Homo sapiens: one gene and its partners. The protein of the gene in region 2 interacts with the protein of the main gene of each other region in a biochemical or structural test. Each region holds a gene or a part of one and is shown on either strand. Other genes may lie near its edges.

Region 1 (11,524 bases), on a different chromosome or scaffold from region 2:
TGCTGGGAAAGAGCTGGGCTTCAAGGGGCTGGATGGAGGCGGTCAGCTTACTCAGTGCCTCTTGTATGCATGCACGCTGGAAAAAGTCTGCAATCCCCTCCTTGGAGTCAGAGGGGGAGGCCGGGTGAGTCACTGGGCGTGTAGCTGCCGTGACCAGCCGCATACTGCCTTGTAGAATGCCTGCTCTGGAGCCCGGCCCCACCCTGGGCTCTGCCTTTGCGCTGGGAGTTTCTGCAGACTGCCTCACCCCACCTACCAGTCCAACCTCTGCCTCCTGCGGCCGCCACTCCACAGCGGTCACTACGGGGAAGAGGGAGAGGGCCCAAGGCCCAAGGGCGTGGGGGTGAGATCCCCAGGGCTGGGCTGGAGTTGCCACTCTGCTCCTGACCCAGGGGCTGATCCCAGTCAAGTTACTACCTGGGTGTAAGCCTCAGTTTCCTCAAATGCAGAAGAGGATGGATAGGAATTCAAGAGATCCTTCGAAGTTGAGAGCGAAGGAAATCCCAGAATTTTCAAGGGATTCAGAGAAGTAGGGGACTAGGTTGGCTGAGGGCAGGAGGAGGGTCAGCCTGGAGGGGTTGTCAGAGTCTCAGGGTGGGTGACTCATGACTAATGGACCCTGGCCTGGGGCAACACTCTCGGGGTGGCCCAGGACCCCCTAGGCTCCATGGAGCACATGACATCAGGGCCACCTTGGAGTCAGCGTCCCAGGGCTTCCTGGCCCGCCTGGCTGTAGTAAGTAGCTGACTGCCCCACCTCTGCAGGGAAGAGATGAAACAAGACCTTGCAAGGATGCTACAAGGCGACCACAGTGTCAGCACAGCGAGGGACCTTGAGGTCCAGTCCTGGTGCTTGCCTCACTGATGAGGACAGGAGGGTAGGAGGGTCCAGGGAACTTGTGCCCGGCCACATAGCCCAGAGGAGCCCACTGCCCACGGTGGGTCCAGAGCTGGAAAGTGGGGCCAGGAAGGGGGGGATGGGGGAGGAGATGCTGGGCTGGGTCTGCCCCTCCCACCCACACCCGTCTGGGCAAGACCAGGGCCCTCCGCCTGTGGCACTTACCTTGTTCCTGTTGCCGGGATGGGCCTCCCAGGAGCAGTTTCCAGCCATCTCCAGGCCTGGCGCGTCTGGGCCCCTGCTGGCAGCTCACCAGTCTGCACACCCACCTGGCAGAAGCCCAGAGAGAGGGTGGATGAGGACAGCAGGGACCCCTCCCCTTCCTGGACCCCCGTGCCTAGGCCCCCAAGGCCTGTGGCTCTCAGCCATCACCTTAGAGGAAAGGCAATCACCCCACACCCTCAGCAGCAGGGGCATTGTGGGACTGTCCTGGTGAGATTCTGGAGGTCACCCCTGGGGCACGGCCCCCTCCTGCCTGTGGACTCCGCGTCAGCCCCACCGCAGCTCACTGGAAAAGAAGCCCTCTCCTTTCCCTTTTCTTGTGAGAGTTCTGGAGCCAGGCTGCTTTTGCAGACATACATTTACTTCCCCACACACATTTTTGGGGCACTTCCTTTGTGCCCTGCCTGGTGTGGGGACAGGGGTTTCCCAGCAATCGGTCCCAGAAGGAGGAGCAGGGGAAGAGGGATCATTCCTGGCAGGGGGAACCTGCTGGAGGAGGAGGGCTTTGGCTGAGCCGCGGTTTGTAACATGCTAAGGCATCTGGCCTTTCCCCTACATGTGCCTGGGAGGCAGGACAGCCCGGTCATCAGCATCACTGTCACCACCACTTACCCTGCCAGCCCGCCTACACCCATCATCTGGTTTGGTCCTCATGACCAGCTATGGGCCAGGTATCCTCATGCCCCTTTGATGGGCGCTCCTGGGCTTAGAGGGTGAGGTCACCTGCCCAAAGGCACACCCATAGCCACACCATGCCCTGCAGCCTTGCAGATTTGTGTTTCGAGCAGCTGCCGTAGGGAGGGACTGCTGGCATAGAGAGGGGAAGCTGCACCCACCCTAGGGCTGCCAATGGGAGGCCTGGGGTAGGGGGTGACCCTGCTGGAGGCTGGTCCACCTTGGCCGGCCAGACCTCATGGGTCTGCCTGCCTTGGGTCCTCTGGAATTGATCCCGGTCCCCCAACCTGAGCTTCACCCCTTGGAGGAAGCTTCTCCCCGTGAAGCCCTGTGCCCCTTCCCCGCAGAGAAGCATCTATTATTATTCCCTGCTGTACTGGGGGGGTAAACTGAGGCTGTGAGCGGAGAAGGGCCTTGCTGGGCACAGCCCAGGTCGCAGGCTGCCGGGCCCCTCCTCTCCCAAGGGGAGAGCTGGGCATCCTGCTCAGCTCAACTCCCCGGAAATTCTTTCCTCTGCGCCGCGCGGGTCCGCCCGGCCTCAGCCAGCCACGTGCCCCCGCCCGCCGCGCACTCCTCCCGCCCGGGGGCGGGCCGTACTCCTGGCCTCCGCGCCCACCATTGGCTAGAAGAGGTGGCCGTCTGCGCGTGTGGCCCGCCCCCTCTTTAACCCTGGGCCTCCCGGAGCTGGTGGCGCAAGTGTGGCCCCAGGGGCCGCTCCCAGGACCCTTCCCACCCAGTGGCCTGGCTCCCCTCGGCCCCGCGCTGCCAGACCGCGCCGCTCTGCGCCTTCAAAGGGCGTTTGTGAGCACCTGTGCCTGGCCTACGGCTGACTCAGCCTGGGGTCTTCGGGGTGTCCCAGGGTGGGGGCACCTTGTGTGCCGGAGTGAGCCAGTGCATTGTGATGTGTGTGCAGTGGGCTTGCAGATGGCTGGTGCTGCGACCTGTATCTTAAGTCTCCCTCCTTGGACTCCAGTTGGGCCATTGTCCCGTTGCCACAGACAGGCCGTAACTTCTCCACGCTCTGGGGCCTGTCTGAGCTTTCCTGCCCTGCAACCCCAGACCTATCACCTGCCCTCATCCTTCCGGGCGCCTGGTAAGAGCCCCCCAAGCTCTCTCCATTGCCCCTACTCTTTTTGGTGGCCCTTCTGGACACCCACCACCCCTAGGTCTGGGCCCCCAGCCTTGTTTCCAGAGATGTCCTGACTCACAGGAGCCTCATCCATTCACCCTGGCCAGGCTAGACCCCAGCCACACCAACTAGTGCCCCAAAGGCAGTGGGCTGGGCTCCCCCCTACGCTGCAGGTGGGCATGCAGTGGGGGCCCCCAGCTCCCCTCTCTACCATCTGCGTCCCTCCATTATGTGGGTGTCCCTGTGCATTTGTCCTTGTCCTGCCAGGGACAACCTGAAAAGCGATTTCACGCATGCACAGAAAGATCTAGAAGCCAGCAGACCCCAGATGGGCCATATTAAAGGACATGTGTGTGACACGTGGATGGGGCGTGCGTGTCAGTACATGTGTATGTGTGTTCCTCTGGGTGGGATCTGGGCTGCTATGACAGAACTAGTTTCCACTGAAGCTGACCCAAAAAGCTGCCAGCACAGCTCACACCTGACCCTCCCCTCGGAGCAAGCCCAAGGGTGGCCTGGCCACCTGTCAGCCTCCTGCAGCCTTGCCCGCAGGAAGCTCCTCCTCTCCCTTCACTCCATCCCACCATGACCCAGCCCCGACGCCGCTGGGGCTGTCCCAGCCCCTCTCCTTAGCCGCTTGTGCCGCCATCAGAGGGGCCTGTCTCGCTCCCCCAGACACAGAGCCTCTGTTTTCCTCACTCCGGGTCTGGAGTCCCCTGCTTAACAGCTTGGATTGAAGAGGCTTGTCTGGGGGGACTGAGACCTTGCAGATCATTCCAGGAGCCGCCTCCATCCAAGGCCAACAGCTTCATCAGGCCGCAGGCCTGGGAGAAGGTGGGACTGCAGTTGCCCAACATCCTGTGGCTGCCCACACGGACACCCCATGTGCACCCCAGGGCTGAGAGCAGGGGGAGCCATCTCCCTGTGTGTGGGACACTGCCTGCTGGGTGTTCCGTTCCAGCCCCTCTAGAATGCATGCTTGAATGGCCAGTGAGGCTGGGGGAGGGACCGAGAGGGAGCCCTCACCCCCAGCAGCACAGAGCAGGAGCTGGACGGTGGGGCTGGGGGTGAGGCCAGCTGAGAGGGGTCAGGTCCTGCCACGGGAGGGGGACTTTTAAAGTTCCTCCATGGCCCTGGAACCCTGGAGCCTCAGGAGTGGCAGGGGAGCTTCTCCGGTGAGTGACAGCCTCTCTGGGGTCTCAGGGCTCCCTGCCTGGGGCCTTAGGATTTCTGGGAGCTGCCTGCCCCGACAGCGTCCACCTCTCTGCCCCTACAGTGCCCGCGTCATTTTCCTTCCCTGCCTGGCCCTCACCCTGCAGCCCCGGTTGTTGGAACACCCTCCCCTGGACCCTGGGCCCCTGGAGCTACCTGCAGCTGTCCTGATCCGCCGAGGCCTCCTTTTGTGGAGGGCTCTTCCTGTGACTCCCGCCTCCGGCCGGCGGACCCGCCGGGGCAGCAGGCCAGCGCCGAGCGCGGCCCGGAGCCTTGGAAAATAGGAGCTCAGAGTAGAGCCCTCTCCTGCTGGAAGAGATGGCTTTGGAAGCAGAACCCGCCCCAAACCCAATTCCTGGCCCGGCAGGAGGGGGAGGGGGAGGGGAGTAGGAGGAGGGGCTGAGCAGGGCTGAGCGGGGATGAGGCTTCAGGAAGGAATGCCCCGCTCAGGAGCCCCCCCCAGAGCCCCACCGGGAACTCATCTCTCCGCCTGGTGACGTCACGTTGGCCCGAGCACTGCAGCCCGAGTCCAGCTGTTCATCTCCCTCACATTCTGCTGCTCGGCAGGGCTGCCCAGGAGAGGGAGCACCGGCTGTACACTTGCCTGGCGTCTTTGGTCTGCCCCCAGTGGGCATTTCGGGGCAGGCTGGCCCAGGAGGGGCTAGTCCCCACCCCGTTGTTTTAATTTACTCAGGGGCTGATACAGAGCAGTGGGGGGCAGCAGGGCGAGGGCTCCATGGAGGGGCAGTGCAGAACTGGCAGAGGTGGTCAGCACCGCCCAAGCGGCACCCCTCCCCCTTCCCACCCCGGACTCGGCCTGGGCCCCCTGGGGGCTTATGGAACCAGGAATTCCCTTTTCCCCAGCCCTAATAGCAATCAGATGGCGCAAGTGGAAAATCACGGCGCTCGGCAAGCAAGCTGGAAATTGGCGGGCTGTGGTGCCTGGTGCCTGCGCTGCTCAGCGGGAGGATGAGTCAGGTCCCCCTTCCCCATTGAGCCCCTGGAGGCGGGCGGTGGGGGGGGGTCCTGGAACGCGTTCATGCCTGGGGCACTGAGCATTGGTAGGGGTGGGGGTGCAGAGTCGGGGGTGCGGGAGCCAGCAGGGTGGCCAGGAGGAGGGGGTGATGAGAAGGCTCCCCTCCTACCCTGGGCCAACTTTCTCAGGGTCCAGGAAGCCCGAGGGAATTCTGAACTTTCCCTGCAGGAGTGTAGTGCCCAGACTGGGAGAGATGTGCCTCTGTGGGCATCTTGAAGGGAAATGAGAAGCGGAGCTGCCCCTGCACCTGCGCTGGGAGCTGCCTGCCTCCTGCTTGTCCTGGCCATGTGCGAACCTCAGCGTGGAAGAGGGACTCTCGCACTGCTCCCTGCGCGGCTCAGCTGGCCTCCTGGGGTCCGTTTTTCAGGGATGGGGTGAGGAGGGACTCTGGGATCCTGGAGGCTCACGGGCCATGCCTGAGGCTGAGAGAGAGGCTGGAGGCAGCAGGCAGGGTGGTGACCCGTCCCCTCCTCTCCAGGGCAGCCAGCTGGGGCCCAGCTGGAACGCTTGTTTACATGGGGAGGCCGGGGGAGGCTGAATCCCGGCGAGTTCCAAGTGTAATTGCGTTTGGACACTTAAAAGGAATTGTGTGAAGTGGGCAGAGGCTCTGAAGTCCACCGCCTTATTTGGTATGGAAATCTGTTTCTCTCAAAATAAGCGAGAGGCGCTTGTAAACGGGAAGGTCGTCCTGGCCTGAGTTTGTGGAGTCCCCTTCCCGTGGGCTTGGTGTGTCCGGCTGCTCTGTTGCAGTACCGCAGACCAGGGGCTTATCGGAGCAGGCGTTTGTTTCCCATGGCTCCGGGGGCTGGAAGGCCAAGATCAAGGCCTCCACAGATTCAGCGTCTGGTGAGGACCCAGCCTCTCACTGAGTCCCCATGTGGTGACCCCTTTCAGGCAGGCGAAGGAGCTCAATGGGGCCTCTTTTACTCGGGCATTAATGCCATTATGAGGCCCCACCCTCATAACCTGCTCATCTCCCAAACACCCCACCTCACACAGGAGATTAGATGTCAACACATGAATTCAGGGCAGTGGGGCAGCAGGGCAGGGGGTGGGGCCACAAACATGCAGTCTGTAGCAGCCACCCTGGGGGTCTCTCCCCACCCCCTGGGGGAGTGGTGGGCTGTGTGTGTGGGGTGGTGCCCAGAGGCCCAGTGCAAGGAGTTCCTGTGCTGCCTCCAGGCTTGGGTGACCGTGGACAGTTTCCTTCCCACTGGGGACCTTGGTTTCCTCAGCTGTCAGATGGGAAAAGATAATGACCCACAGGGTTATAGCAAGGAGGGATTGGATGCCGGGAGGAGCCGGGAGAAAGAGCTCTTCATGCACCTCAGCAACGCCGCTCCCTGCTCCAGGTGTCCCGCTGGTGCCAGGCCCTCCCTGCAAGGCTCAGGGCTCTGGCTGATGCTGAGAATGGGGCATGGTCCCTGCTCGTCCAGCCTTCACTTTCTAAACAGCCACCACTTGCCGTCAGGAGTCCTCCCCTGCCCCTCCCAGTAGAACTTTGTTTTTAATCATCCCTTGCCAAGGGCCTCATGGTCCTACGCCTCTCCCCATGTCCCCTCCTGAGGGTGCAGGCCTGGACCCTCCTCTGTTGGGGGGATCCTTGGGGGAAGGAGGTCGGTTCTGGACAGAGATGTCTCCCTGCCAGGTGCTTCTGTGGCCTATGGTTGCCCTGCTGCTCCCTGGACGAGGGGGTGGGTGTGGACCAGCCCTCGTGGCCCCTCTGCAGCCAGCACCATCCTCAGTAAAGACTACAGGTATTTCCTGAGCACCTGCAGGGTGCCAGGCACTGTGCTCTGTGCTGATGAATAGGACAGGCAAGGTCCCTGCTCTCCGGGAGCTGATGTCCAACAGAGAGGCAGACCAGGTCAAAGGAAACACAGTAAAATGCACCTGCGATGAAGAAGGTGTGCAGGGCCATTCGGCTGGTGTGGTGGCTCACGCCTGTAATCCTAGCACTTTGGGAGGCTGAGGCAGGTGGATTGACTGAGCTCAGGCGTTCCAGACCAGCCTGGCCAACATCGTGAAACTCCATTTATACTAAAAATACAAAAAATTAGCTGGGCATGGTGGCACACACCTGTAGTCCCAGCTACTTGGGAGGCTGAGACATAAGAATCACTTGAACCCAGGAGGTGGAGGTTGCAGTGAGCTGAGATCACGCCACTGCAGCACCCCAGCCTGGGTGAGACAGCGAGACTCTGTCTAAAGAAAAAAGGTTGAACCAAGGCCTAGCTGTCTTTCCTAATAGTGAAAGGGACCCCTCTCCTTCTGCTCTGTTCCCCTCCTCCACTAGGCTGGGCCTTTCTGTGCTGGAAGGTGCATCTTGGGAATCTCAGCAAAAGTCCACATTATCCTCTGTCCTGCATGTGGTAGACCATTCATTTGTTAATTTGTCCATCTTTCCATCTATCCACTTACTCATCTACCCACTCAACTACCCATCTACTTGCTCATCCATCCATCCATCCATCCATCCTCCCATCCATCCATCCACCCACCAGACCATCCATCCATCCATCCATTCACCCACCAAACCATCTATCCATCCATCCATCCAAGTACAAGACCATCCATCCATCCATCCATCCATCCACCCACCAAACCATCCATCCATCCATCCATCCATCCACCCACCCACCAGACCGTCCATCCATCCATCTATCCATCCATCCATCCATCCATCCATCCATCCATCCATCCACCAAACCATCCATCCACCCACCAAACCATCTATCCATCCATCTATCCATCCATCCATCCATCCATCCATCCATCCATCCATCCATCCACCAAACCATCCATCCACCCACCCACCAGACCATCCATCCATCCATCTATCCATCCATCCATCCATCCATCCATCCATCCATCCATCCATCCACCAAACCATCCATCCATCCATCCATCCATCCATCCATCCATCATCCATCCATCCACCCACCCATCCATCCATCAATCCGTCTATCCATCCATTCATCTATCAATCCATCCATTCATCCATCTAGCCATCCACCCACCCACTCACCCATCCACCCATCCATTCATTCTTACCTTAATTCAACACATTTGTACTGAACACCAGCAATGTTGGTGCTAGGAAAAGAATTGTGGAAGAACCAGACATGGGGCATGGGGAGCAGGTGATAAATAGAAAAAACTGAACATAAGAACTCCAACCTGTGATTAGTGCATTGAGAAAACCAAACAGGCATAGTGACAGAAACTTAGGTGGTAGGCAGGGAGGGATGGGAGGTGAGCTGAATAATGGCCCCTAAAGATGTTGATGTCCTAATCCCCAGATCCTGAGAACATGTGACTTTGCACCTGGCCAAAGGGACTTTGCAGTTGGGATGGAGTGAAGGGTCTTGAGATGGGAGCATCATTGTGGATTATCCAGGTGGGCCCTATGTCATTGCAAGGGTCCTTGTAAGAAGGAGACAGGAGATCAGAATGAGTAGTGGGCCATGTGTTGATGTGAGGAAGGGGCCACCAGCCAAAGAATGCAGGCTGCCTCTAGAAACTGGAGAGGACAAGGAAACAAGCTGTCCCCTAGAGCCTCCAGAAGGAACCAGCCCTGCCAACACCTTGACTTTAGGCCTCTGATTTCTGGAACTCTTACTAGAATACGTTTGTGTTGTTTAAGCCACTAAGTTTGTGTCATTTGTTACAGAAGCCACAAGAAACTAATCCATGGGGATGGCCAGGCCTGATTAGCTGGGGTGGGGCTGGAGGCTCCTCTACAGAGATGATGCTTACACTGAGACCTGAAGGAGAAGGAGGAGGTGGCTGCTCACGCAACCCACAGGAAAGTGTTCCAGGATCAAGAACAGCAGGTGCAAAGGCCCCGTGATGGAAAGGATTGGTGCACTAGGAGAACAAAGTGGGTGGCTGCAGGGCAGGAGGGGAGGGTGCATGTGCAGGCTGGGCAGGAGGGTAGGGCCTTGAGGCACCCTACAGGCCCCTGTAAGTCCAGGCACAGAGCTGCTGCCTTGAGCCCTGAGGTCTGGACATTCCAGTTTCCCATCTTTCCAATGTGGGACTCTCTGCCTTTTCCAATTCCCCACTTCCCTGATGCCAGATACTGCCTGACTGTGTCCATCTCTCCCCCGTCCCCTGGGCCACCTCCCTGCTGAGACCCCTCACTGGTGCCTCCCAGGTGCATTCTCCTCGCTGCCCCCAGCAGAGTCCTTCCCACACACCCAGCTCCTCGGTGTGGTGCCTGCCCGTGGGTGGGTGGTGCACCCCACTGGCATCCCTCCTCTGCCCTGTCCACCTCAACTTCCAGGGCAGCCTGGACACCAGGTTTGGTCTACCTCGTCCACACCCGCCTGCTTCTGTCCCGCCTTAAGCGGATCCGTGATGTCCCGTCATTAGACCTTCAATTTCAGCACAGGACTGAATAACTAACCTTCAAAAAGTTTGCAGTAGCCTTGTCACTCCTAAAAATAACAAATAATTCCTTAAACATCATTCAACATCCAATCAGTGTTTGCACACTTTTTTTACAGCTCTGCATGTGTGTCACAAGCTAAACAAGGCCCGTGAGTGGATGTGCTTCTTTTTGGGGTTGGGGAGAGACGGTGTCTCACTCTGTTGCCCAGGCTGGATTGCAGTGGCAAGATCTTGGCTCATTGTGTCTCCCGGGTTCAAGCGATTCTTCTGCCTCAGACTCTTGAGTAGCTGGGACTACAGGCAGTGCCACCACGCCTGGCTAATATTTGTATTTTTAGTGGAGACGGGGTTTCACCATGTTGGTGAGGCTGGTCTCAAACTCTTGACCTCATGTGATCCCCCGACCTCGGCCTCTCAAAGTGCTGGGATTACAGGTGTGAGACACCGTGCCCTGCCTGATGTGCTCCTTTTAATGACAGGTTCCCCGCAGCATCTCCCTGTCCCTCTTCCTCAGTCTCTCTCCTTCCTGCCCTCCTCCTCCCCCGGCCCTGACTTGGGTCAAGAAACAGACACATCACACTATCAGGGAAATAGGGGTTCACACGTGGCGTGGGCAGGTCTGAGGCGTGCGAGTCTGGAAAGCTGTAGTCAGAGAATCAGAGGAACGCTCACTGGGACTTTGGCCAGCCCCTGTGTGGGTACTGGAGCTGGAAGAGCTTGGGAAGCTGCCCCGTGTGGCCGCCACAAGCCTGAAGGAAGAGCTCGTGGGGAGGTCTGTGAAGCCACTGCATCTGGGCGCCATGGCCTCCTGGGAATCACGGGTCCCAACTGACTCACCTTCCAAACCTCACCACGAGCCCTTCTCATTGAGAAACTCTGACCCAGCATCTGTCATGGAAGGGACTCGGGGAACAGTTTCCAGCCATAGGAGGAGGTCATGGGACTGAGAGGCCGTCCAGGTCCAGCACACTCCAACTGTCAATTTGCCATGCGGATACTCTTTTAACGAGACTTAACCTTTTAGTGGGGAGGTGCAAGGAGTTTATTTTAGGGGGTGACCCCAAGAAACATTACAGGGAAGGAAAAGAGTTCTGAGAATTCTCTCCCACTTTGCTTTGAGGGGTCCTGTCTTCAGCTTACCACTGCCCTTGCCTTCTCTGTGGATTATTATGGCAACAGACACTTGCAAACCCTAGGTAGGTCCTCAGCGAGGGTGGCTTGAGCAGCCAGAGACAGGCTGAGAGCAGCTGCCAGGATGGCTGTCGGACCCTCAGGGGCCTGGCGGGAAGCTCACTCCTGCTTTGGGGCAGCAAGAGAGAGGGAAACAGGAGTTGAAGTTGCACTGAACACTGAGGTCACGTGCGGGCTTTCCTTCTGGGCCTGCCACTGGTACGCAAACAAAACTCAAATATGTCTTCAAACCCAATCAAACTTCGTCACAGTTTCCCCTGAGACTGGTGCAAAACTAGTACAAAACTCTTGCTTTCTCAAGTCTGAGAGATCTGGGGTCTTCTGTTTGGGAGAGACCATGTTTCCTATAAACTTTTTATCAGAAGCAGCTATTTCCAGACAAAACTTCTGAATGTTCAGCCTCGAACGCATCTCTTGAATCTGGAATTTCCCCAAGGCTTGATTCCATGGGATGGCTGAACAGATAACACTGACTGGGGGATGGGTGTAGGTGTGTTGGTGTGTATATTTCAAGTCACTTTTGCTTCTTTAAAAATATTTAATTCCAGGAACATTTTTTAAAATTGTGATAAATTGTGCATAGTATGAAATTTATCTTTAGCAATTTATATATTTTTTTGTTTAGCTAGAGTCTAGTTCTGTTGCCCAGGCTGGAGTGCAGTGGCACGATCTCGGCTCACTGCAACTTCCGCCTCCCGGGTTCCAGTGTTTCTCCTGCCTCAGTCTCCTGTGGAGCCGGGATTACAGGCACGCACCACCGCACCCAG
Region 2 (11,253 bases):
AACAGACTGACTACATGGATAACTTTTCTAGGAATTGTTCTTAACTCTGATAGCTGGCTCAACTGATGTAGGCATTAAAATAACGTCATATTACCATCTTTCCTCCACGAATTGATGATATTTGACTATAGCTTTGTCAGGGTTATGTCCAACTATTGTATAATATGTGTCAGTTTCCTATTGCTACCGTAACAAATTACCCCAAATTTACTGGCTTAAAACAACACAAGTTTACTATATACAATTCTGTAGATTAGAAGTCTCACTTGGCTAAAATCAAGGTGTCAGCAAGGCTGTGTTTCTTCTGAGCTCCAGAGTAGAATTTCTTGACTTGTCTTTTCTGTCTTGTAGTGGTTGCCTGCATTCCTTGGCTCTCATGGCCTCCTTCTCCATCTTCAAAGCCAACAGCTTTGAGCTTCAAATCCCTGATTCTGACTCCTGCTTCTGTTATCACAGCTCCTTCTCTTCCTCTGATTCTGCTGCCTCTCTTTTATAAGGACCTTTACATTCAGACCACAGAGATAATCCATGATAATCTTCTCATCTCAAGATACTTAATTTAATCACATCTTCGAAGTCCCTTTTGCCAGTTAAGGTAACACATTCACAAGTTTCAGGTTTGTAGAACATGAACATCTTTGGGGCAGGAGGTCATTATTAAAACTACCACATAAAGTTTCTCATTATCTTATTTTTTATTTATTCTCAGGTTGGTTCCCAAACATAATAAAAGCTATATTTAACTGCAAATAGATTTACAGTTAAAAATTAAAATATTTGACCAGGTGCTGTGGTTCCAACCTGTAGTCCCAGTTACCAGCAGGCTAAGGCAGGAGAGTCACCCGAACTCAGGAGTATGAGGCTATAGTGCACTGTGATCAGCCTGAGTGACTGAGTGAGACCCTATCTCAAAAAAAAAATTAAAATATTCATGTTTAAATGGCATTATTAAAGTGTATGTCCAAGGAATCATTTCATTAAGCATTTACTTTTAAATTCTTCAGTTATCAATAATTTAATAAGCTATAAACCATTTCAGATTTCTAGACCAATGACATCATTTATAATTATTTTCCAAATAATTTGGAGCTTAACCATAGTCTCCGTGTAATTTATTTTGTGGATTCACTTTTAACTAAGATATCACTATATACTGTAGATTCATGTAGTCTCTGTGGCATCCTCATTCTAAATATACATCATAAATCACAGGTAGTATGAACACAAGATAGGGAAACAATATACTTGGCCTCACTGAATAATATTTAATCTGATTTCTGCTTTTGCAGGAGAAGTATTACTAAACAATTATTCTTTTAGGGCTCATAACTAATTATTATTTAAAAAATATTTTTATGTAGGACTTTTTTTTCTGAGGAGATAAATATGCCTTTCCATATATAGCACACTGCTAAACTTAGTTTATTTAAGAGTCCTTGCAGCAAAAAGATCTTGTCAAAAGAGGTTCTTGATCATTGTTCCTAGTTATCTTGATCATTGTGTCCAAGTTATTCCATCATTGTTAAGGAATAATTTAAGCAAGACTTAAAATTGATAAAAGAGGGAGAAATAGTTTTCACTTTTCTGAGAAAGATTTACTAGTGCTGAGTTGATATGAATCATTAATTCTCAAACAACTAATTTAATTTTTTGTTGTTACTCATGTGTTAGTGAAAGGCTATTGGAAAGAAGACTTTTTTTCTTTTTTTTTTTTCTTTTCTTTTCTTCTTTTTTTTTCTTTTTGAGGCAGATTCTCACTCTGTTGCCCAGGCTGGAGTACAGTGACAAGATCTCGGCTCACTGCAACCTCTGGCTCCCGGGTTCAAGCGATTCTCCTGCCTCAGCCTCCCCAGTAGCCACCAAGCCTGGCTAATTTTTGTATTTTTAGTAGAGACGAGTTTTCACCATGTTGGCCAGGCTGGTCTTGAACTCCTGACCTCAAGTGATCCACCCGCCTCAGCCTCCCAAAGTGCTGGGATTACAGAAGTGAGCCACCACGCCCGGCAGAAGGAAGACAATTTTTAAGAGACTTGGGATTTTTCCCTTTTCTTTTTATTTTATTTTATTTTTGACCAATAAAGTCATTTCACACCCATTTCTTTTAAAATCAACTTTAAGTCCCCATATAACAGACTAATAAAATGAAAAATTAGGAAATGTATGGCCTTTCATGTGATTCTCTTTTTTTTAAAGAATTTTTATCAAAACTTTAAATGAACATCTGTTGACTCAGCATTTCCACAGTGAACAATTTACTGAGAATACTTGTGTTAGTAAGCAAAGACAAGTGTACACTAACAAGAAACTGATGAAAAAATAAAAACATTCATTCACAAGAGACTTAAGCAACTGCTCAAAAAAGTGAGGCTAATATGGCCCAGCACGGTGGCTCACGCCTGTAATCCCAGCACTTTGGGAGGCCGAGGCAGGCAGATCACCTGAGGTCAGGAGTTCAAGACCAGCCTGGTGAACATGGTGAAACCCCGTCTCTACTAAAAATACAAAAATTAGCCAAGTGTGGCAGCGCATGCCCGTTGCCCCAGCTACTCGGGAGGCTGAGGCAGGAGAATCGCTTGAACCCGGGAGGCAGAGGTTGCAGTGAGCCGAGATCATGCCACTGTACTCCAGCCTGGGTGACAGAGCAAGACTCTGTCTCAAAAAAAAAAAAAAAAAAATAGGTTAATATGAAAATATGTCTGACATATACTGTGAAGTGAAAAATTCAAGTCATAGAAGAGAATGTAGACTGTAATCTAAGCTGTGTTATCTTTTAGCATAAAGGTAGTCATATAAAAACATGGTACAAATGCCTGGTGTACGCACAAAGACAGTGCCTAAAACTATATATCAGAAAACAGCAAGCAGAGAAGAGGAAATGGGAGTGTGGGAAGGAGGGGAAGATGAGAAACCAGCAGGTATTACTTTTAAAATAAAGAGTGTATCTTAAAAATATATACTTGATATCTGGTTCAATTTGGTGTTTGATAAAAAGGAGCTGGGCTCGGTGGCTCACACCTTTAATCCCAGAACTTCGGGAGGCCAAGGCAGATGGATTGCTTGAGGTCAGGAGTTCAAGACCAGCCTGGCCAACATGGTGAAACCTTGTCTACTAAAATACAAAAAAAAAAAAAAAATTAGCTATGTGTGGTGGCAAGTGCCTATAATCCCAGCTACTAGGGAGGCTGAGGCAGGAGAATTGCTTGAACCCAGGAGGCAGAGGTTGCAGTGAACTGAGACCATGCCACTGCACTCCAGCCTGGACAACAGAGAGAGAATCCGTCTCAAAAAAAAACAAAAAAAGGAAAAAAATACACTTGATAGAAATATAAGAGGAATATATATAGCCTACAGCTTAACAAAGATTCCCCATATTTCCAAACAGAACATGATGGTAAATTTAAGATATTTAGCATTATTTGGAAAATACATGGTTAGGTAATCTTAAGGTAATCTATATTTTTATTTGATGTTTTGTTATAATGTCATTGTAATAGCACTAAAACATACTTACTGAGTAATATTTAAAAATAATTTCCTTTCTTTGAATAATCCATCAAGTAGTAAATTTTACATTCAATTAAGTGAAAAGGTAAATGAGGAACATCAGAAATAAAATAAAATAGTGTTAGAGAATTTTCCTTAATTTATGCCAAGTTTTGAAACAAAGAATGAAATCTCTGGAGATTTTGGTTATGCTAAGGGTCTATCTAGTGGAAATCAAGATAGCTTTGAATTTTGTCGTTTCCAAGAAAATTTAAGTATTGTATGGTATTTGATAATTTCTAATTTTTTTCTTATGAAGAAAAGAACCTAAATTTCCATAATCTAATTCAATCCCTTTTAAAAAATCAATCATAAACTGGGTTTCCACATATATTTTTTAAAATCTCTTTTACAGTGACACAATTAAGATGCAAATTATTTAGATTTGCTCAAGTTTGCTTGTTCTTGTTCTTCCAAGTTCTAGGTCAAATCCAAAGTTAAAATACATGAAAGCTTTTGATTTATGAAGTAGACAATTTTGCCTTCAAAATTACACCACATGACCTCTTCTTATTTGAGGAATATTTTCTTTTTCCCTAGGGAAAAAAATTATCCTAACCCCAAAATGATAGTGTACCTCTATACCTGTAACAGCAACTGGCATATCTGTGCTCAATTATGTTTGTTAAATGAATGGTCCTTGTTAAGTACGATATAAGCAAATATCAACCTTCTTTGCCAAGTTCTCCACATGTAAATACTGTTAGAAGAGTTTTTAAAGAAAAATTTAGTGTTTGCAATTTTAACTCTCGTATCTTCTGATTTCTACGCCAATGCTCTTATCCTTAAAGCCACATTTGTCCCTTGGCTGAAGAGTTGTGAAAGATCAGGAGACTTTTAGAACCTATCCATAACCAGTGTTGGCATTTGCAATATCCATGATTGAAACAAAATATTTTCAAACCAACTACTTTTACTAAACATGCAATGTGCTGGCCACTTCAACAGATAACCGGGCTTTGAGGAGGTATAGGTGTATTTCAAGAAATGTACTATCTAGCTAGGAAGAGAGAAGGATAGGTAAGACAACAGCAATGGGGGAAAAACCACAATAATATATGACGAATGTTAGATGTGACTTTAAGAGTTCAGGGGGCGGCGGGGGTGTGGGGGCGGAGCCGGGCGCGGTGGCTCAAGCCTGTGATCCCAGCACTTTGGGAGGCCGGGGCGGGCGGATCACAAGGTCAGGAGATCGAGACCATCCTGGCTAACACGGTGAAACCCCGTCTCTACTAAACAAAATACAAAAAATTAGCCGGGCGTGATGGCGGGCGCCTGTAGTCCCAGCTACTCGGGAGGCTAAGGCAGTAGAATGGCGTGAACCCGGTAGGCGGAGGTTGCAGTGAGCCGAGATCTTGCCATTGCACTGCAGCCTGGGCGACAGAGCGAGACTCCGTCTCAAAAAAAAAAAAAAAAAAAAAAGAGTTCAGAGGAGGGTAACGGAGGGAAATCGGAGGCTGTTTCAGAAGGTGCCCAGCAACAAGTGGGACTTAAGCCGGACTCCTGCAACATCCGAGGTGCGCACGCTGGCCCAGGATCCTAACAAATTGCTAGTCGGTGGCTATGAGTCTTAGATTATCAGGGACTCTCCGGGCTCTGCGGACACGCAGAACGCAGGCGCCACGCAAGCCGGCCCCGCCCTTTCACCCCTCCCCGCGCTCCCGGGCCCCGGGCGCGCCGCCTGGAACCCTCCCGGTCCTGGCTGGGGGCGGGCGAACGAGGCCCCACCTCTGCCGGGAGCGGGACGAGCGCGCAGGCGCAGTCTCCCCAGGTTGTAGACGCTGCGGCCCGGCCCGGCGGGGTGAGTTGAGAACGCGGCGCTTTGGTCGCAGCGGCGGTATGGTCGCCGCAGTTTCTCGGTCTTCGCTTCGGCGACCTTGACCCCCTTGTGGGTGGGCGAGGCTGGAAGAGAGGCTCCCCACCCCACTCGGCTTCCTGATCCCTGGGGGCGCCGGGCGGTCACCGAGGGCCGTGTGAGCGCCGCTCTGCCGGCTCCGGGTCCATGCGGCTGCGGGAGAAGCCCTGGGCGTCGGGGCTGGCCTGGGAGGGGCCCGAGTCCCCTGGTGACCTGGGCGCGCGGCGGCCCCACACCTTTCCGTCCGCCTCATCGCGGCGCATTTCTCTTCACATCCTCGGGGTGTGTGTGTGTTGGTGACCGGAGGAAGCCTGTCTAATGACTTTTCTGGAAGCGTCGTGTATTAGGAGCTCCGGGGCCGGACTGCTTGGGTCCGCATCTCCATCCACCGCTTACTGGCTTTGGGACCTCTGCAAGTCACTTCACTTCTCTTTCTCAGTTTCAAGTGTAAAATGCGGAAAATAATAGCAACTTATCTCCTAAGGTGGTTGTGAGGGTTGCGTGGGTTAATATTTGTGAAGTGCTTAGAACTGAGCGTGATACACAGCAAAACCATAAGTGCTGCTCATCTTTTTGAGCTTGGTATATAAAAGGAGATAGTGACCTTTTCTTCTCTTTCCAACCCCCATAAATAATTGCCCAAGAGTAGGAAAAAAGGATTTTTTTTTCTTAAGGATATGGGCTTTTTGCATAGCCTGTTTAAAAACAAAGCTTTCTAAACAACTTAGTTGCACATCCTACTTTAGAGAAAAGACAAGTGTTAAGTGATGGTGACTTGAAAACTGTAAAGTTTATTGTTTGGAAAACCGCATGAGAAAAATGGCCAGAACATATTTGTGCTAAAAAGAGTTAACATAGCAGGCCTTAAGACTGCTATCCTTAGAAAGGACTGCTTGCAATGTTGGTGCTTGTTTGGCATCTGGGAACTTAGATTTTTGGGTTTGTGCTGAACAGTATGTTTTATGCCGAAATTACCAGCTTCTGTAAAAATCCGGGACACCAAGTCTTTAATGGGCTTCCCTGCGCGGAAACTGCTGCATTTTCACTGATGGAGGAAGGATGTGTTTTGTTTGACCCCTCTTGGGAGGGAGACCGCATAAGGAGCCTACACGTGATTCCTCCAGACTCCGCTTGTGTCTTTTTCTATTATGATGAGCCTTTATATCCATACTGCATTGTGTAATAAATGTCAGCCATGAATTCAACTATATGTTGAGTCCCGTGCATCCTATCAAAGCTCTAAATGTGGGGGAGATCACGGAGATCCTCAGCCACAGTTTTGTAAATTTGTATAAAGGTAAGGGATATAAGTGCCGTTTTTTTACGAGGATATATTTCCTAGTGGTACTGGGCTTTTAGTGTAACCATCACCTGAATAATGTACATTGTGTCCATTAAGCAATTTCTCATTCCTCACCCCACTCCCATCCTTCCCAGTCTCCAGTGCCCAGACACAATTTTGATGATAAAAAGTATTGGAAGCTCTAATAATTGGACTTTTAATTTTGCCCTTTTGCCTCAAATGGAAATTGGAAAACTACAGATAAATAATTGCCGAATTCTGGGTTACTGTACCAAATGATTCTGTCTGTTTAGACATTACATATGGCAGAAAAATCATCAGAAATTGCCTCTACATTACCAAGTTAATTTTGAGTCAGTGTTTTTGAAAAAAGGCACAGGTTGCTTACAGTATGTAGGTCAAATGCCTGGTTTTGTTTATTATTTTGCTAGCATTATCTGTGTTAATGCTCATCTTTATCAAGAGCTTATCTGTACCACAGCGAGAAAATATAATCAGTTTCTCATAGGCCATTTTCCCTGTACTTTATTAGTTATACCTATCTCTTTTCAGGACATCAAATTTAAATTGATGGAGGTAGGTTTGCAAATTTGGGGTTAGAAAGATCAAATTTGCCGTCTGCTTATGTCTCTTTTCCCTTATAAAAGACTAGATCAGTTTTTGGTAAGTTAGTTGGGAGTTGGAGGGGTTAGAGGTTTGAGGAAAGTGAAGAAGATTTGAAATGGCTCTGTGGATAGTATGTAAGTTGACCAGAAGGTGAAGTGAATAATAATGGACCTAGTCTGCTTTCTTAAGAGACTTTCTCCCGACATGGAGAAAATGGTTAATTGGGTTCATCTAGGATTGGGTTCTGCGAGAGAGGTGATGTAGTCCTTAAGGCTCTGCACAAGTATTCCGGTTCACCTATTTTTGGGTACATGTAATGCTGCACTCTTTGTACATGGGCAACCCCTCTCCATGTCTGCTTGAAGTTAAATGTGCCATGTGACTTGCTTTAGGAAGCAGCTCTCCATTTGCCATTTCCACTTCTCCCTGCCCTGCTGTAAGGGTCATGGAAGGACTTGTTGAGATGCAGCCTCTTGTCAGCCTGGACACTATAGGAAAATATGAGTGGCTGATCAGGCAAGTTGGAAGAACTGGGAAGTTGCTGTCAGAGAAGGGGATACTTAAATTAGTGATTTTATAAGGTGGAACTGTAGGGGAGAGTAGATGAGGAAGTTTGGAGGGAGAAGGTAGAGATGAAGTGCTCAAGGAACTCAGAGGCTTTTTACATGTTCCTAACCCGGAAGCCCTTAATTTATTGCAACTTAGTTCAGTAGTGATGACCGTTGGACTTAATGGTAAACTTGAAAGCTCCCTTATTGTGAATTATGGAATGAATAAATCAAGATTTGGAATTTAGTACTGAATTGAAAGATTCATTACCTTGATCATTGAGAAGTAAGTCAGCAACCATGAAAATTGCGATGTTGCTTAGCCACCAGGCAGGAGAGTAAAAGGTAGGCCAAGCTACTCTAACAGAGACTCCAAAATATAGTAGTTTTAAAAAATGCTTAGCTTGTATCTAAAATCTTTGATAATTAACTGAATTTTTAATAAATATAAGGGATAGAGGTAAATAACACTATGAAGAAAGAGACAAATTCAGTGTGAGACATTATATAACTTTGCTGTCGAAAGAGTATTCTATGGGCCCCCAGCAGTGGCTTCAGTTAGAAGCTTTTTAGGTAGGTAGAATCTCAGGTCTTGTGCCAGACTTGTTGCATCAGAACTTTCATTTTAACAAGACCCTCAAGGTGACTCATGCACTGGCCTGATCTCTTTAAAAAGCTAAAGTCTTAGGCAAGTAACAGGTTGGAAGAACTGTTCTGTTAATAGATTAAAAGATACTAAAGAGACATAACCAATATCAAGTGCAAACCTTGATTGAATCTTTTTCAAAAAACCAGCTATAGAAGACAATTTAGGGTCAACTAAGGAAATTAGAATATGATGGAATATGAGATGATATTAGAAAATTATTAATTTTCTTAGATATGATTACATTGTTATATAGGAGAATGTGCTTATTTTTAAGAGATACATGCTGAAGTATTTAGGGATGAACTGTCAAGATCTCTACAACTTTCAAATAGTTCAACTATGTGTATATATATATATATATATATATATATATATATATATATATACACACACTCACATACATATATGTGTCTCTCTATACACACATATTGATATTTAGATAAAAACAAACATAGCTAATTGTTAATAGGTGTGGAATTGGTGGGGCACCATGGCTCATACCTGTAATCCCAGCAGTTTGGGAAGCCAAGGCATGTGGATTGCTTGAGCCCAGGAGTTCGAGACCAGCCTGGGCAACATGGGGAAATCCCATCTCTACTAAGAAATACAAAAAAATTATCTGGGCATTGTGGTGTGCACCTGTAGTCCTAGCTACTTGGGAGGCTGAGGTGGGCGTATCACCTGAGCCTGGGGAGGTTGAGGCTGCAGTGAGCTGAAATCAGGCCACTGCACTCCAGCCTGGGCCATCAGAGTGAGACTTTGTCTCAAAAAATAATAATAGCCGGGCACGGTGGCTCACGCCTGTAATCCCAGCACTTTGGGAGACTGAGGTGGGCGGATCACGAGGTCAGGAGATCGAGACCATTCTGACTAACACAGTGAAACCCTATCTCTACTAAAAATGCAAAAAAAATTAGCCAAGCCTGGTGGCACACGCCTGTAATCCCAGCTACTTGGGAGGCTGAGGCAGGAGAATTGCTTGAACCCAGGACGTGGAGGTTGCAGTGAGCCGAGATCCATCTCAAAATAATAATAATAATAATAATAGTAATAATAATATAAATGTGGAATCTAATTAGTATATGAGTGTTCATTATACTGTTCTTTTAACTTTTGTAGATGTTTAAAATTTTTCATGATAAAAAGCTAGAGTGAAAAACCCCCAAAAATGTAGTAGCTTAAAAAGATAGAAATTTAATTTTCTCTTAATATTCCAGTGCTAGTTGTACAACACAGGTATAGAGTGGCTTTACTATGCTTGGCTTACAGCTATCCATTTTTGATCCAGTATGGCTCATCCAGCTCCTACTATTTCCTTGCTAGCAGAAGGGAGGAAAGGGTAAAGAGAACTCATTATCCAGAAGCAATACTTACTCCGTTGATGAAAACTTTAGTTTTGGTCATTCACCTGGACATCATATATTTAGGGGTTGTGTCTTGGTTCAGCCTGGTATAGCAAATTATTATAGACTGGGTGGTTTAAACAACACAGACTTATTTCTCACAATACTGGGAGCTGGGAAGTACAGGGTCAAGATGCTGGCAAATCTAGTATCTGGTGAGGGCCTTCTTCCTGGTTTATAGATGGCCATCTTCTCGTATATCCTCATGTGGATACAAAGGTAGCTTTCTAGCCTCTTATTATAAGAGGCCAGTCTCATTCATGAGGGCTCCACCTACATGACCTAATTACCTCTCAAAGGCTTCACCTCCAAGTATCATCACTTTGGGGATTAGAGTTCAACATATCAATTTGGAGTGGGGACACAAACATTTAGTCCATAATGGTATAGTTGGCAAAAGCCAATGGAATATACCATGTGTATACTGATTTAACAAAGATTTATTTCATTTCAAGTGATGTTCCCCTCTTCTTCCTCTGTTGATTTCCCGGACCAGTTGAAATTGAAGTCATTTCAGTTTTAATACACATTAAATAAAATATAAAATTTTAATTTTGAAGACTAAAATGTATGAATTTTTTTCCCTCAATCCCTTCAGTAAATAACAGATGCGGGTGAAAGATCCAACTAAAGCTTTACCTGAGAAAGCCAAAAGAAGTAAAAGGCCTACTGTACCTCATGATGAAGACTCTTCAGATGATATTGCTGGTAAATTGTGATATATGGCATCCCAAATAGTGTTGAGAAGAAATAACAATGCAGTTGACCCTTCAACAACATGGGTTTGAACGCTGAGGATCAACTTGTACACAAATTTTTTTCCACCAAACCTAGATGGAAAATACACTATTCTTGGGATGCGTGAAAACTGCATACTTGGCAGGCTGACTTCTAAATGCAGATTCCACGGGGCCCACTGCGGGACTTGAGTATGCACAGATTTGGGTATATGTGGGGAGGTCCTAGAACCAACTACCCCACCCCACCTCCCTGCCTCAAGTATCTGAGGGAAGACTGTATATGTTTTTAATTAAGAAATCTGTTACTCTTTATTTTTACTGTTTTCTGCATAAATATTAGAATCACCTTTTCTAGTTCCAAAAAATCCTGTTGGCATTTTTATTAGGATTTTGTTTAGTTTATAACATGAAGTAACTTAGATTGGCTTTTTTTTTTTTTTTGGTCTCTTTCTCATGGCCTATTAAAACCATGTCACCAAGCCACCAGAGCTTGGCAGATGGCTTTTGGGAGCTGCTGGCCTCAGGGCTTGGTTTTCTCTTTAGCCTCATGCTTTTGATTTGGGCCTCTGAGGATTTTCCTCACTTTCTTGCTAGTTCTCTCCATTT
Region 3 (8,757 bases), on a different chromosome or scaffold from region 2:
TGTTTTGGAAGAGATTGAGACATACTAGTTTTAGAAAGATAAGCTCTTTTTTAAGTATTTGGTAGAGTTCACTAGTGCAACCATCTGGTCCTGAGCTTTTCTTTTTGAAAGTTTTTTTGATTACTGATTTGATTCCCTCTTTTAAAGCTCTATTGAGTTTTTTTTTTATTTCTTCTTGAATAAGTTTTCGTAGTTTGATTCTAGGAATTTGACTATGTCATCTAGTATACATAATTTGTAATTGTTTATAGCGTTCTCTCATAACCCCTTTTACTTCTATAAGATTGACAGTATTGTCCCTACTTCCATTCCTTATTTTAGTAATTTGAGTCTTTTCTCCTTTTTCCTTGATCAGTCTAGCTAAAAGTTTATTAATTTTGATTTTTTCAAAGAACAAACTTTAGGTTCCATAGATTCCATTGTTTTCGTGTTCTCAATTTCATTTGTTTTTGTTCTCATCTCTTATTTTCTTCCTTCTGCTGGCCGTGGATTTAGCTTTTTAGTTTTCTCTTCTTGTTTTAGTTCCTCAAAGTATAAAGTTAGGTTATTAGTTTGAGAGCTTTCTTTTTTAAAATGTAGGCATCTCCAAATATAAATTCCCCACTGAGGGCTTTTGCTTTCGCTACACTTAACAAGTTTTGTTATTGTTGTGTTTTCATTTTCACTCATTTTAAAATATTTTAAAATTCATCTTCAAAATATTTCCCTAGTGATTTCTTCTTTGATTCATCTGCTGTTTAAAGAGTGTATTGTTTTATTTCTACATAGTATTTGTGAATTCTCCAGATTTTCTTGTTGTTGATTTTTAATTTCATTCCATTGTAGTCGAGATACTTTTTCAACTTTTAAAATTTATTGAGACCAGATTTGTGGCATAACATTGGTCTGTTTTGCACAATGTTCTGTGTACACTTAAGAAGGTGTATTCTCCTTTGGGTGGAGTATGCTACATATTTCTTTAGGTCTAATTGCTTTATAGTGTTATTCTGAACGTTTCTGTGAGGATGTTTTTGGGTGAGATCAGCATTTAAATCAGTGGACTTAAAGCAGATTGCCTTCTCTAATGTGAATGGGTTTCATCCAATGAATTGAAGTCCTAGATGGAAAGACTCACCTACCCCAGCAAAGGGAAATTCTGATGCAGACAGCCTTTGAACTTGAACTGCAGTGGCAGTTATCTCCCTGGGTCTTTAGTGTGATGGCTTTCGGACTTGAACTCATCAGCTCTTCCCTTCCCTGGTCTCCAGTCTGCTGGCCCACCCTACAAGTTTGGACTTGCCCCCACAACCATGTGAACCAATTCTTGAAAGTAAATCTTTATATACACACACATCCTATTGGTTCTATTTCTCTGGAAAACCCTAATTCTCCTACCTATAGAATATATGAAATTGTTGTAAAACTATAATCATTTAAATGAAAGAGTATTTGGAAAGTTTAGAATTAAATCTATCTATCTATCTATCTATCTATCTATCTATCTATCATCTATGTATGTATATATGCAGATGCTCCTTGACCTACAACGGGGTTACAATTCGATATACCCATAAGTTGAAAATATTAAGTCAAAAATGCATTTAATACACCTAACCTAATGAACATTATAGCTCAGCCTAGCCTGCCTTAAATGTGCTCAGAAAACTTACATTGGTTTACTACTGGGCAAAATCATCTAACACAAAGTCTATTTTGTCATAAAGTGTTGAATATCTTATGTGATTTATTGAGTACTGTACTGAAAGTGAGAAACAGAATGGTCATATGGGTACTTGAAGTACAGTTTCTACTGAATGCATACTGTCTTTGTACCACTGAAAAGTCGAAAAATCATTAAGTCAAACCATTGTTATGTCAGAGACCATCTGTATATGTACATATAATTAACCATAAAATTATATATAAAATTATACATAAGGGAATTAAGAATTCCTGAGGTTTCTTTTTTCCTCTTATTTATTTCCCCCACTTTTTTTTGAGACAGGGTCTTGCTGTGTTGCCCAGGCTGGAGTGCAGTAGTATGATCACAGCTCAACTACAGCCTCGACCTCCTTACTGGGCTCAGATGATCCTATCACCTCAGCCTCCAGAGTAGCTGGGACTACAGGTGTGCACCATCATGCCCAGCTAATTTTTTGTATTTTTTTGTAGATATGGGGTTTTGCCATGTAGCCCAGGCTGGTCTCGAATTCCTGGGCTCAAGCGATCCACCCGCCTCAGCCTCCCAAAGTGCTTTTTACTCCCTTTTGATAACATCCTGTTACCTATAGAGAGTAAGAAATTTAAGGATAAATCACTGCAGTTTTATTTAAAATTTTAGACAAAATTTAAATCATGTATATAAATACAAAGATGAACATTGGTTCTTTAAACACTGACAAAATCCTGAAACAATATAATGTATATATTTTAAGCCACATTTCCTATTTTTACAACATAGTTTACAACCTTCCCATTTTTACAACATAGTCTAAAACTAAGTTTATAAAAAAAAGTACATAGGAAAATATGATTGAAGCATTCTCAAATACATGGCTCTGAGGGTAGATTACTTGTTTTTTATCATTTAATCCATATACAATGCAGCAAATAGATACATTAATTATAACATTTTCCTTCAATTAATAGTTTATTCACTGTCATAGAAGCTCCATGAAGGGGCATCACTTAAGAAGCTCTCCAGGTTAGAGTCAAGCAAATTCTGAACACTTGGTCAAAGGCACATGAAAATGCCAGGTCCTGGCACAATGAGTAAATAACCCAGAAGGTGATATATGTCAGATCAAGACAATCTTAAGCACCATAGTAACTTTTGAGGCAAGTGGCACCGTACTCTTATTAAAGACAAGTCTTTACTGTTGAGGGCACTGGGTCTCTGGAGTAGATTTAGAAGACACATATAGAATAGGGTGTAATTTCTTACAAGTTTCTTTTTCCAATTTGCTTGAAGTTTCTTTTCCTTCTTTAACTTCTGTTTGAAGCTTTGATTCAGCAGCTAACCTACAGGCATTAAAGCATCCACTCTGAATTCAAATGTGGTTATGAAGGATTGAAGAAACAAACCCCCAGTATAATGGGCCTCCAATAAGGCATGGTATTCAAGGAAAAAAAATATAGTTGACTCTAATACTGTAAGAATATTAAGTCACTGGCTGTCTAAAAGTCTTTTTATATCAATAGGCTCAATTATTGTTATTATTACTTTTTGAGACAGAGTCTCACTCTGTCACCAGGCTGGAGCGCAGTGGCATGATCTCGGCTCACTGCAACCTCCGCCTCCCGGGTTCAAGCGATTCTCCTGCCTCAGCCACCGGAGTAGCTGGGACTATAGGTGCGCACCCCCACATGCAGCTAATTTTCGTATTTTTAGTAGAGACAGGGTTTCACCACGTTGGTCAGGATGGTCTTGATCTCTTGACCTCGTGATCCACCTGCCTCAGCCTCCCAAAGTGCCGGGATTACAGGTGTGAGGCACCACGCTGGGCCAATTATTTTTTAAGTCTAAAGAATATCTTTAAAAAGTCATGGCAAGCCCTAAATTAAAGAAAATATGACAGGGCACCTATCATGATAAGCACACCTAACACAAAAACTGAAATGTTACAGCAATATTTTAATGTTAACATGACATACAAAAGGCAAGACAAAAATAACATGGAATCTTGGGCTGCATGAATAGATGTCTATTTGTTTCATATTAAAAAATTGAGTTTCAACTAGTAGAATAAAGAAAAGATAAACAGTAGAGAGATTCTTAAAGGCCTGTAAAGATTCTCGGTAACAAGAACACCAATTAGTTTTGTAAAGCATGCAATAGTGAAGTTCCCAATAAAAGCCATATTTATTGTTCCAAAATTATCTTAGGATTGTGTATCTAAGTTAAACAGGCAGAAAACAAAGAGTCGGAAACATTTTAAGTTAGCAGATGGACTCACACACACACACACACACACAAATGTTTTGTGGTATTTTATTTTTTGTTTAACGAACAAGACAAAAAGTTTCCAACGTGCTACTTGAGTCAATTAGCCACATACATTTGCTTAAGTGATTTTTTATCAAGCAAAAAAAGGCAGAAAAAGGAATGAAGACAATACAGATAGCAAGGCTGGCACTTATCAATTCTGGAAATCCACCTCCAGAAATATACACTGGTCAAGGATGTTTATACAATGCATCACATATAAACAGGCATAATCTGCTGGATTCATTTCAGAACTCTTTGAAACCATGGGTATGTGGCAGATACTCATTTGAAGTTACTTTTTCCTTAAGAATGGTAAGCTTTTATTTTATGTGACTCAGAGGTTATAACATTCTATAAAAATCCAAGGAGGGAGTAATAAAATTACTATGCCTTATAATAATAGCAGCTAACATTGTTAAAGTGCTTTTACTGTTGAATATTACATTTAGTAGCACTGAAGACTTGGAGAGAAATCAGATAAAACATATAAGCCCTTTTAAACAGGGCTGTCTTACTCTCTCTACTCAAATGCACATTAGTAAAATGTCTTATTAATCTGTCTCCACTCTCTAAGACTAAGGTAGCCCTAGTAGCACCTTCAACATCTCATTTCATAGGAGATAATCTAGGCTAGTTATTGGCACATCTTTTTGAATGTCTAGATATTTGTTTTAAATGCCTCTAACAATCCCATTGCATGCAGACATCCTTCATCTTTCTTTTACTTTCTTCAATTTCCTCATTCACTTCTCCTGCTGCGCACATCCAGAACTCGAGCCTCAGCCACTGCTACTTACCTTTCCCTTCCATTCACTTTCTCTTACCTTCTGACCTCAATTATTTTTATTAAGACAAAGCCCTTGGGACATTAATTCCTTCAGACACACATATCTGACGCTATTTCTTTTAGTCACAAACTCAATTATGCAGAAACTAGAGGCTTTCAAGTTTTGGAAACAATGAAAATGAGTTAGCTTTGATATGTAAAAATGTCAAAATAAGTATTGAAGCCCATTTTTGAATGCCTAGGATAAGCAATTCAAAAGACATAAAAAATTCACCTAAGTTTCCTAGAAGGCTGAAATTTCTTAGACTACTGGAAAGCCCTTTGAGAAAGTAAGTTAATTTTTCTTTCATGGCCATGCTTGAACCAGGAGAAAAATAACAGTACATGTATTCAAACTGATAAAACATTCAGAGATGTGTTAAACTGTGATATTCCCTTTCATGAAACAGAAACGTGTAACTTTTTAATGTGATTGCCTTATTCAAGAGTCCTTTCCCTTTGCAATCAGTTTAGTCTTTCTTAAAGTTCTGGAAAAGTTGAAGGTAGGTAGATGAAACTGAGGAATTATACTGCATGCAATTGTAAGAAAGTAGATAAAGAAACAGACAGCACAGTTCATGCAGCGAGAGAGGAGAGATGGAGAGGTCTGCTGGCTGCCTGGAGGAAAAGAGGACACTGACCTGGGAGAGTTAGGGGTGTTTCCACTTCTTTCACTTAAGGCCTCAGCGTCAGCGGGAACTCCTATGAGTTTCACACATTTCTTTTCCTTCTTCAGCTGCATATCCACGGGCAGATTTTTGTGAGGAGAGAGACTGACTACTGGTGTGTATATAGAAACTGATTTTTCTAATTGCAAGTTGTTATCTTCTAAACTGTTAGGGCAGGACTGTGTCTCCTCTTTCTGAGGCGGTAATCGATAAACTTCTCCCCCGAGAGCACTGTTGTTGACACATGCATCTTTAGCGGTGGTTATATCCACAGGGAGCACCTCACGCCTCTTTTTCAGTACAGGCACTTCAACTGTCTCTGAGAATAAAAACGAGTGGGGAAAAGAAAAAATCTAAGAAAACAAAGACACAATCAACACAAGAAGCCAGAACTAGTTATATGTATACCTTTTTCCATTCTTTTAAAATGCAACCATCTCCTCACTGAAATGCATCCTTTGTTTCTACCTTTTATTCTTTATCATGGAATCTATATAAACTATATATTTTAAAGTTTATTTGGCTATATATTTTTCCTTGGGAATTCAATATTTTGACTTTAGGCATGAATGCTTCACTGTTCTCTCTTGGTGTTTTGAAAAAGGTGGTTCATAAGATCTCAGTGTGGAGATGAAGAGACAGCGGCAGAGTCCAGGTTCGAATCCTAATCCTCGTATGTGACAGCCATGTCTTTGGGGAATTATTTAACCTCTCTGAGCTTCATTTTATCTGTAAAATGGGGATTAAAAGCACCCACTTCACTTGGTATTGTGTATTAGAAGGATTAAATGACAAGAATAGGCCAAACTTTCTGAATATTGGTAATATATGCCTGTTAGCTCTACCTACAAAATATAAGCAGAATCAGACTACTTTTATGATGGATACTTCCCTAGTCCAATCCTATCATGTCTCATCAAAGACTACTGCAATGCCTTCTATCCTCATGGCCTAATATCATTCTATCTAAACAGGTCATAAACACAGCCACTGAATTAACTGCTCTAATATCTTTTCCCTATGCCCATTATCGATGTGTTTCATTTTCAAAATCAAAATGTTAGTGGAGTCTGAGGAACACTGGTAGCACAAGGGGTTGCTGTTTTTGCTCTACATTGTTGCTTTTAGACCATGATTTCCCCTTTTTCTGGCACTGCTCCTTTGAAACCCACATTATCAGGATTCACTACCCTGCCTCCTGTCTATTTGCTGTGTTCAGTTCAACAGATGTTTGAAATTCATAATGGATAATTCTTAATCAGGGGAGCCTATTAGAATCATGGAAGAAACAAAAAGAGTTAAGAGCAAGAGAAGCCTTTTAAAATTGTGTAAAAACCTTCCTATTTTTGGCAACCTCCCCACTATTGTTGAGAATCATAGCAGTTCACTGAGACAATACGAAGAGAGACTGAGGCATGTGCAGAGTGCGGGGACAAAAACTTGTTGAGAATCCTTAACCTAAAACATGTAACACTCTTTTAGGGAAGGGGTGTTGTAGAACCATCACATTCTTAGACTCCTTCACACTTGGCCTTTTGTTTTTGAATTTACATACAGTAAACTTCACTCTCTGTAGTATATAAGATGCAGAGACTGTATGGTTAGGCTACTTTCCAGCTCAGTCATTAGACTTGCTAGATATTCCCTAATATGTTTCATTGTTCTTTCCTTTCCCCCCCATTTTGGTGGAGAATGGGGTCTTGCTATATTGCCCAAGCAAATCTCAAATTCCTGGGCACAGCTATCCTCCTCCCTCTGCCTCCCCAAGAGCTGGGATTACAGGCACGAGCCACCACGCCTGGCTCACTGTTCTTCCTTAATAAAAGAATTCCCAATATTTAGTTAGGAACATGGCCCCTGAGAATCAAGACTGCATTTCTCAGCCCTTCCTGTCAGCAGGTGAGGCTGCATGACTAAATTCTGCTCCACAGGATGGCAGCAGACCAACAAACACAAGAAGCCTGAATCTTGATACCGTGGAGTGCTTTCCCAGTCCTGGAAGGCCTCCTCCAGACTTCCATCAGAGGCAGAGATAAAGACCCACCTTTTTAAAGTCTCCATTACTTTAGATTTTCTATAAACAGTCCTACCTCGTATAGCTTCCAAACATCAGCTGCTTCAACATAATTAAACTATTAGGTATGACATAAAATACTGTAATCTTAAAATGGGAAAGTCTCAAATCTCAAGTTTCTACTATACAGTATGATGAAATTAGATATCCAAAAAGGATACATGTTATATTCAGGCACACCCAGTATCCAGTTCTCCCTGAATTTTCCTACCTATTTTACACAATAAATTTGCTTTATTAACTATAGGTATATAACTACAAATGAGTTTGTAATAGAGTTGCATAAAACTACAGTAAGAAAATAATTTGATATAATTTCAGGTTACTCATAATTTAAAAGACAAAAATATATGAGACATATATACCTTCAGGTTCATATTTTAGTTTCAATTCATCTAGTTTAGCTCTCAGTTTCATATTTTCACTTTCTGAAAGCTGGAGGCATCTTTCATTTGCAAAAAGTTTTCGCTCAATATCTAGAGCCCGCTGGCTCTCAAATAATGCTTTCATTCGCTGTATGGACAATTCACCTTTAGTGCTTTCAATTTCTTTGCTATGATAATAAAAAAGGAGAACCAACGAGTATTAAGACAGCATATAATAAGTGTAGTGGTATAAATATTTCATCGCATATTTGAATTCTTAGTTAAAAATACATTTTTCTGGGGTTTTTAGTAACAAAGAAACAATAAACAATTTAAATAATCCTTAACAATAGTAGTGTTAAATTTAAAAAATACTCATGCATTCTTGAAAGGAAATGGACAAAGGAGGAAATAGTCTTTCAAATGTATTCACACATGAATATCTGCACAAAGATATTTTTGTTACCTTTCTTTTCGGAAAATTTCCTTTGGCAATTTCAAAAAAACTTTGTAGTCACTGACACTACCATAGTAAGCAAGTGACATGTTCATCTTTCCATCCACCAACCCAGACACTTACTTTAAGTTATCCAGCTTCATCTGAAGTAAATCTGTATAATAGGTGTTATCTTCCAGAGTACCAGAGTCGACTGAAGGCTTAGATTCCATACTGTCATATAAATTCTTAAAAAAGCAAAAGTTTGTATTACTTAAAATAAATAACAAATAAGGTTAGTGTATGTTTATTAATAATAGCACCATCACTTCCTGAATTTATATCCCTTGGCGTACTACGCTAAGAACTACCCATTTAATTTATCTGCCTTCTGAAGTAGGTAAATAATTAACATTCCTCT

Evidence for each region.
Region 1: the proteins of USP45 (region 2) and MRGPRF form a complex in vitro, tested with the Homo sapiens proteins (one study listed by BioGRID).
Region 3: of the proteins of USP45 (region 2) and SPDL1, one has a biochemical effect on the other in vitro, tested with the Homo sapiens proteins (one study listed by BioGRID).

What each region holds. Positions count from the first base shown.
Region 1 is NC_000011.10:69,008,792-69,020,315, forward strand, and holds the start of MRGPRF (mas-related G-protein coupled receptor member F), read right to left. Parts: upstream 4,456-11,524; 5' UTR 4,292-4,455; intron 3,758-4,291; exon of another isoform or gene 3,563-3,757; intron 2,541-3,562; exon of another isoform or gene 1,732-2,540; intron 1,178-1,731; exon of another isoform or gene 1,167-1,177; 5' UTR 1,111-1,166; coding exon 1,063-1,110; intron 1-1,062. UniProt on the Homo sapiens protein: Orphan receptor. May bind to a neuropeptide and may regulate nociceptor function and/or development, including the sensation or modulation of pain.
Region 2 is NC_000006.12:99,509,483-99,520,735, reverse strand, and holds the start of USP45 (ubiquitin carboxyl-terminal hydrolase 45), read left to right. Parts: upstream 1-5,312; 5' UTR 5,313-5,344; exon of another isoform or gene 5,345-6,695; intron 6,696-10,505; 5' UTR 10,506-10,515; coding exon 10,516-10,615; intron 10,616-11,253. UniProt on the Homo sapiens protein: Catalyzes the deubiquitination of SPDL1. Plays a role in the repair of UV-induced DNA damage via deubiquitination of ERCC1, promoting its recruitment to DNA damage sites. May be involved in the maintenance of photoreceptor function.
Region 3 is NC_000005.10:169,598,303-169,607,059, reverse strand, and holds the end of SPDL1 (protein Spindly), read right to left. Parts: intron 8,585-8,757; coding exon 8,481-8,584; intron 8,089-8,480; coding exon 7,901-8,088; intron 5,781-7,900; coding exon 5,435-5,780; coding exon of another isoform or gene 5,236-5,434; exon of another isoform or gene 3,001-5,235; coding exon 2,853-3,000; 3' UTR 2,282-2,852; downstream 1-2,281. UniProt on the Homo sapiens protein: Required for the localization of dynein and dynactin to the mitotic kintochore.